Linked DNA regions of Homo sapiens. Changing the gene in region 2 together with the main gene of any one other region gives a genetic interaction. Each region holds a gene or a part of one and is shown on either strand. Other genes may lie near its edges.

The links. A genetic interaction does not mean that the proteins touch.
Region 1: changes in MPHOSPH6 (region 2) and EXOSC9 together harm fitness more than expected from each alone (negative genetic interaction), as found in Homo sapiens cells (one large-scale study listed by BioGRID).

What each region holds. Positions count from the first base shown.
Region 1 is NC_000004.12:121,804,323-121,807,822, forward strand, and holds part of EXOSC9 (exosome complex component RRP45), read left to right. Parts: intron 1-299; coding exon 300-437; intron 438-3,217; coding exon 3,218-3,300; intron 3,301-3,500. UniProt on the Homo sapiens protein: Non-catalytic component of the RNA exosome complex which has 3'->5' exoribonuclease activity and participates in a multitude of cellular RNA processing and degradation events.
Region 2 is NC_000016.10:82,149,465-82,154,046, forward strand, and holds part of MPHOSPH6 (M-phase phosphoprotein 6), read right to left. Parts: intron 2,051-4,582; coding exon 1,960-2,050; intron 1-1,959. UniProt on the Homo sapiens protein: RNA-binding protein that associates with the RNA exosome complex. Involved in the 3'-processing of the 7S pre-RNA to the mature 5.8S rRNA and play a role in recruiting the RNA exosome complex to pre-rRNA; this function may include C1D.

The sequences.
Region 1 (3,500 bases), on a different chromosome or scaffold from region 2:
TGGTTTTTAACAGACATGATAAAAATGTAATTAGATTTGAGGTTAGGAAAATCGTAGTATTAAATGTTAGAGTGGTTCTGTTTATTTAAAGTATGTGTTCTGTTGTTAAACGACCCACATAGTATTTCAGATGTTTGGCTTAAATTTTCTAAAATATATTTTTTGTTGACAAAGTACAAGGAGTAACTGCGTGTTTTAACAGCAAGAAAAAATAATTTGTACACAATGTTACTTTTCCTGATAAATAGCCACTGGTTGTAATCAGTTAGGATTTATTTTTATTTTAAATTCACTATCAGGTTTGGCAAATACGTGTAGACCTACATTTATTAAATCATGATGGAAATATTATTGATGCTGCCAGCATTGCTGCAATCGTGGCCTTATGTCATTTCCGAAGACCTGATGTCTCTGTCCAAGGAGATGAAGTAACACTGGTAAGCTCCTATGTGAACCAGGATCCTTGATATGAATGAATGAGGAGGGTCTTAAATGTGCAGGCAACTTGTTTTTAGTGAAGTTATGTTGTAGATGGCAATTGGGTCGTTTCTAAAAATTTGTTTGTAAGACTGAAACTGCATATGGTCAAAATTGCCCTGGAAATCTCTTAACCGTTCCTCTGTTGAAACATTTGTCAGTAAGAACATACCCTAGCCTGGTTTTCCAGAATAGAATTAGATGACTATTTTGGATTGAACATTAGATGAAGTGGTTGACTTATGTTTAGGGGCCATATGTGTGAAAAATACATGAATCTCAGCACAGTGAGATGCTTACCCTGCAAGAGGCATGCAATAGCTGAAAAGCACTGAGGAATCAGCAGGTTCATATTTGTCTCCAGGACTTTTGTTCATTAGGCAAAGAGATGACGAAAGTCCATCAGAAATACCTGGAGGGCTTGTTAAAACGTATAGCCAGACTACTCCCAAAGTAAAACAGGGCTAGGACTTAAGATTTTGTACTTCTAACTTTGAGTTCTTAGGTAATACTGATGTTGCTGGTCCAGGGAGCACATTTTGAAAACCATTGACCTACGTTGTCTTTATCTTTTGTTCTGAGTATGTCAGTTTTGATTTATATAAATTACATGCTAGAATAGTGAAAGTGCACTGTAGTTGTAGTTTGAATCCTGAAGTTGCAAAAGGACACATCAGATGCCCAGATTTTCTAAGCAATGATTCATAATTTTGATTTTGGGCAGTAGACTGAAGCAGAACCATTAAAAAGTGAGAAATAGGGACAAAGGTTTATTAACAGTAGAGGTAATATTCTTTTAGAGGAGGGAGTTTATATAAGGAAGTGAAAAAAAGTAGAAAGCGATTACTACACTTGAAAAATCAATTAAAGAATACTGTGGTGTTATTGCTAGTGGGAATGTAAAATGGTACAGCCATGTTGGAAAAGTTTGGTAGCTTAAGTTTTAAGTGTAGACAGCATTCTATATTCAGAAAAATAACAGTAGAAGAAAATATTCTTTTTTTTTTTTCTTTTTTTTTTTTTTGAGACAGGATCTCACTCCGTTGTCCAGGCTGGGGTGCAGTGGCGTGATCTCGGCTCACTGTAACCTCTGCCTCCTGGACTTAAGCAATCCTCCCACCTCAGTCTCCTGAGTAGTGGGGACTACAGGTATGTGCCACCCACTTGACTAATTTTTGTATTTTTTGTAGAGATATGGTTTCACCAAATTGCCCAGGCTGGTCTCGAACTCCTGGGCTCAAGTGATCCTCCCACCTTGGCCTCCCAAACTGTTGGGATTACAGGCATGAGCCACCATGCCCAGCTGAAAACACTCTCTTATATGTACATCTTTCAGCAGGTTTGACCTTGTAATTTTTTTTTTTTCTTTTGAGACAAAGTTTCACTGTTGTTGCCTAGGCTAGAGTACAATGGCGTGATCTCGGCTCACTGCAGCCTCCGCCTCCCGGATTCAAGCGATTCTCCTGCCTCAGCCTCCCAAGTAGCTGGGATTGCAGGCATGTGCAACCACGCCTGGCTAATTTTGTATTTTTAGTAGAGACAGGGTTTCTCCATGTTGGTCAGGCTGGTCTTGAACTCCCAACCTCGTCCACATCGGCCTTCCAAAGTGCTGGGATTACAGACGTGAGCCACTGCCCCCAGCCGACCTTATAATGTTAAAACAAACTGCAATGGCTTAAAATTAGAAAAAAAAAAAAAAATTCTAGCAATTCCATGCCTAAGAATCTACGGGAGGAATAAGAGCTTACTACGTTCAGAGACTTCAATGCAAGTGTTCATAGCATCATTTGTTAGCCAGAAACTGGAAACAATCCAAATGTCCAGCTGGTGAATAGATAAAATGTCATATATACAAATAATGGAATGCTGTTCAGTAATGAAAAGAACTGAACTACTGATAAATGCTGCAAGGTGCATGAAACATGCTAAGTTGAAAGAAGCCAGGCACAAAACATTACAACTTTTTTTTTTTCCATTTATATAGAATGCTCAGAAAGTCAGATTTATAGAGACAGAAATAAGATAGATCAGTGATTCCTTGGGGCTAGGGTGGGAGTACACCAGACTCCTACGGACTACAGACAGATTCAAAGGAATTTTGGGGAGTAATGGAAATGTTAAAAAACTAGATTGTGGTGATGGGTCCGTAAATGTATCCATAACTATACATTTACTAAAAATTGAATCATATACTTAAAATGAGTGGATTTTGGCTGGGCGTGGTGGCTCACACCTGTAATTCCAGCACTTTGGGAGGCCAAGGCAGGTGGATCACCTCAGGTTGGGAGTTCGAGACCAGCCTGACCAACATGGAGAAACCCCGTCTACTAAAAATACAAAATTAGCCGGGCGTGGTGGCACATGCCTGTAATCCCACCTACTTGGGAGGCTGACATAGGAGAATCGCATGAGCCCAGGAGGCGGAGGTTGCCGGGAGCTGACATCTTGCCATTGCACTCCAGCCTGGGCAACAAGAGTGAAACTTCATCTCCAAAAAAAAAAGTGGATTTTATGGGATGTAAATTATGTGTCAGTAAATTTTTGAAAAAGCTTTTTGAAAAAGTTGTACAGTTTGAGGAACGTGAGTGGCAAAATCAAACTGGTAATTAATTAAAAGAAGTTATTTAGGTACTCAAAAGAATAAAGGAACTTCATTTTTTAGTATTTGATGTGCAAGATGATTTTTTTGGATGTTCATAACTTAGTGACTATAATTATTAAACATTTTCTTTTGAAACAGTATACACCTGAAGAGCGTGATCCTGTACCATTAAGTATCCACCACATGCCCATTTGTGTCAGTTTTGCCTTTTTCCAGCAAGGGTAAGCCTCGCCTTATTATGGGCCAAAATTACAAATGCAGCTAGGAATTTTATTGCTCTACTCAAGTATGTCATGTTAATATTAAACAAACACTTCCCTTAATAGTAAAGCACCTTGTATTTCCTTTCTTTCTTTGTAAGGGCATTAGTTGGCAAAGAACTTTCTCAGTAGAAGTAACAAAACTCTTATACTTTGATGAA
Region 2 (4,582 bases):
AAACTTACCTGAAGGCAGAGAAACTGAAGTCAAATAATCTAGAGAACTAGTCAAAATTGATAAGGGACTCTCTGTAATACTTGATACCACAATGGTGTAAGAGAAGTAAGCTCTGAGTCAAAAAAATAGTAAGGCAAAGCCCCACTGAATTATACTTAGGGTGAATTTAAAGTGTATTTAAGATCATAAATCTTAGTATTAGTTACTCATATTTAAAGCAGGCATACTGCTGACACATTCCGGTGAGTGGGGGAAGAAATAATAAACTTTCAGATTTTCCCTGAACTTCCCCCACCCATCTTTAAGCCATATGGAAGAAACACTAGTCGTCAGTAATAATTTTAAATGCATCTCTTGGTGGTGGTGGTGGTGAGTGGAGGAGGTGGGAGAAGTGGAAGGCTGGCCCTGTTTAATGGAGGGAATCTGCACCTCAGCCTTACCCTCCTAAACTTTAGAGTGGATAATGCATCCCATGTAACATCCATGCACCACAGGGTCTCTCCTCCAACTCTTTCACATAAACCTTTTTGTGATAATTATCCTCTGACCTTTTTTTTTTTAAATGTGTAATCTCTTCTTTTTAGCAAGAGGAGAAGGAATAAAAGATGAGAAATCAGTCTTAACTAGTTTTTCTAAGGCTTAAAAGAGTGATAATAGTTTAAAACCTTTTCCTAGGGGGAGTGTATTCAGTGTTTCAGAATCCAGTAATTAGGGCCATTTTCTAACACCCGTCCCTGCCCCCCATCAATTTCTGCGGGCAGTGGCACCTCTCCTTTCCCATTGCAGCAGACATACTTTGGAATGCTCGCCTATCCAAACCCTACTCTTTGAATACCACATCTTCATAATCCCTGCCTTTTTCTTCCCTCTTCACCCCACTGCCCAGCCCCTCTCCTTCTCAATCTGAAGCTTAATTAAAGAAAGTCAAAGCGAGACCAGCATATATTAAAAACAAACACTTCTAACATAACACCTTAATTATCACACATGCCTCCTCCCACTCCGCCAAAAAAGAAAAGGAAAACTAACCTAGAATCTTTCAATAAACTCTGGCAATTGGCTTAGTTAACTGTGGCTCCTAGAGAAGTGGTTCTTAACTGGGGATGATTTTCCCCACCAGGGAACCTGTGAAAATGTCTGGAAACATTTTTGGTTGTCACAGCTGGGTAGGAGGGTGGGGTGTGTGTGTGCTACTGATATTTAGTTGGTAGAGAACAGAGGACAGGGATGTGGTTCGTCATTCTCTTAGGAAAGCCACCACCACAAAGAATTATCTGGCCCCAAATGTTAACACTGCCAAGGGCAAGAAACACTGGCTTCAAGTAATATTTACCAAACTAAAGATTTATATCTCATGTGTCCATTTGGTTCATCAAGTACTTGATAGGATGGCTTTTAACATATGAGCCAGAGTTCTAATGAATATTTGTTAAATAAAGGTCTGCTTCTCTATCCTGGAGCAGGAAAATTCAAATGAATAGCTCAGTTATAAGGCAAATATTCATTTTTCAAACAAACTGTCGAAAGGATTCATTTAAAAATCTACTTACAAGCTTGGATTACAACAGTCCATTAAAAAGTCAAATGACATAATTCTAAAGTAACATTTTTCCGTTAGAAAAAATACATGTATAGGTGCCAGAAAATAACTTTTCATAATAGCATGATATGAATAAAATCTTGACGTTCCTGTAAAAGACACAACTTGAAATTTTAATATTTATGGTGGCTCTGTCAAGGGCTGTATACTGCTATATGAAATTATCTACTCACCTCTACCATAAAACTAGACTGCAATGCCTCCAATTTCTTTAAATAGCTATGGCGATATTTCAAGACTTGTTATTTTCTATATAATGAGTAGAAATGGTACCTGGTGGAGAAACACCTAAGCCCAATTATTAGCAGAAAAAAATTCAATTGGAAAAATTTTTAATTTGAAGCAATTATATTTAATACCTCAACCTCAGGATTAAATCCTCTGAATGACATTCTTCCATAGAGAAGATCTTCACATAGTAAGAAACTCTGCTCTTCTATTATGAAACTCCTAAATGGGAAAATAAAAATAGCATTTCTCCATATATAAAGCACAGCAAACAAAAGCCAACACTTTGAATAAAAAAAATAATCAACCTATGGTTCTCAGTAGAATGAAGTAAAAATACAGTAAGATTTCTAACTTAGGGTTAAAAATAAAATCTGATTAATTTGGTCAGCAAAGGCATTAGGAGACAAGAGCAGCAAGCTAGAGGCACAGCCTCTCTTAAACACCACATTTAATTTGCATAAATATCTACATAATATAAAGATCTAAAGTATTGACAATAAACTTGAATTTGCCAAAGTTGAAGCAAAGTTTCTTTTGTGTTTACATCCCCTCACCATATTTTTTTCCAATTCTTTTTCAGAAAGGAAATAATATGTATGTAAAAATACACATACAGTATACAGTGACACACTACTCCAAATCATTTTAATAAAGTTTCTGGCATATTTTGTCTTTCGTTCTCAGGGATTTCAAAAATTCCATTCTCTAATTATCAAAGCAGCACATTTTAAGGAACGTAATTTGGAAAGCAGAATAAAGTATGAGTTTATAAACTGCCTGTAAGCTCCTTACCAAGAGGATAAAAAGGACTGTTAGTATATTTGAATATTTCCTTCCAGTCTTTTTTGTACTTGCATTTACGTTGATTCTTGAACACAGGTCTGAGCTGTGTGGTGCACTTATACACAGATTTTTTTCAAAAAATTTCAATAGTTTTTGGGGAACAGGTGGTTTTTTGGTTACATGGATAAGTTCTTTAGTGGTGACTTCTGAGATTTTGGCCCCCACCAAATTCTTATTACAAATCCAGGAGAAGTAGTGGGAAATCAGAGGCTTGAGCAGCTTTAACAGTGTTATCAGTCAGAGCTCTTAGCTATAAACACCAAAGGCTGACCCTGGATGACTTCAGCAGAGAAGGAATTTACTGTAAGAACACTGTAGGCTCTTCATTTCCAAGGGGGACTGGTTCCAGGACCCCTTGTAGATATCAAAATCTGTGACACAAAGAGCCAGCTGTACTGGGCATCTCAGAATCACCGGGAAGGCTGAAGGGGCAGAATTGGAAGACGGGCAGAAATAACGGTCGCTAGGTGGTTGCACCAGAACCAAAATCATGCTAGAGAATGACCCTAGGAAAACCACTGTTGCTGCTGACGGGGCTGAGCACGACACCACTGATGGCATTGGGGCAGGTTGCGTTCCCTGGACCAGGATGTTTCTGTCTGCAGCAGAATTTCTCTGCTGAGTCACCACCACATGACCGTAAATCCAAGGTGACATATCTATCTCCAGCCTGGCCATAAACCCTAAAGCATGGCAGGAAAGCAAACATGTGGCTTTTAAGGCTTGTTTGCCGGAGTAGGCTCTGATTCTCATAAAGATTCCCTTATGCAACAAACACTTATTAAACCAAACTGTGTGTATTAAATCAAACTGCGGAAACAGCCACCAGTAAAAGAGCCTCAGCTGGGCACAGTGGCGGATGCCTGTAGTCCCAGTTACTCAGGTGGCTGAGGCAGGAGAACTGCTCGCATCCCAGAAGTGGAAGTTGCAATGAGTCAAGATTGTGCCACTGCACTCCAGCCTGGGTGACAGTGTCAAACACTCACCTCCAAAAAAAAAGAAAAAAAAGGAGCCTCTGCTCTCCTGGAGGTTACAGTCTATAGAAAGAGGGGCCAAATAATGAATGAAACATGAAACATTTATATCACACAATGGATGAAAATAAAGCAGGTTATTCCATCCCTAGCTGTAGGGGAGTAATTGGTATGGAACTAGCTTTCCTGCACCATAATTATATAAAACAGGACAAAATATAAAATGACCATTTTCAGATAATGAACAAATCCAAGCATATGACTGTGATGCCTGAGAGAAGAAAATCAAATGAAGTAGACCCCATGAATGCGGAGCTTTCTGCCTGGAGGCAATTTCCAGATTGTGGAGCAGGGAGTGGGGGACTCACACAAAACCCTGTCTTGCTGAGCTTAAGAGACAAACTGTTTCATTGGGGCTTTAGTTGAAAAAAATAAAGGCACAAACTGAAGTTTGGGGTTATGGTGGTGGCTGGAATATCTGGGTGAGGATACCACTGAAAGGGAGCTACACTATGGAATTCAGGACCTGCATACTGGGTTCCCTTGAATCTTTGGCTGACCATGAAGCTGCACATGTGCAGGATGAGTCTTTAGACTTAGGGAAAAAGTAACTGCTGGAGAGATGATTTCTGGGAGAACACCTGCTGCATTAGCTTCCTGTGGCTGCTGTAACAAATTTAAGCTGACAAAATTGGTGGCTTAGAGCAACAGAATTTATGCTCCTACAGTTCTGTACAAAATCCAGATGTTAGTAGGCCTGGGATCCCTCCAGAAGCTTCCACGGTTACAAGGCCTTCTGTGTGTCAAATCTTCCTCACCTCTCCTCCTTATAAGGAAAAGTGATTACATTTAGGGCCCACCCAGATAATCCAGGATAATCTCTCATCTAAAGATCTGTAATTTACTCATATACCAGCAAGGTAAATTTTGCCAC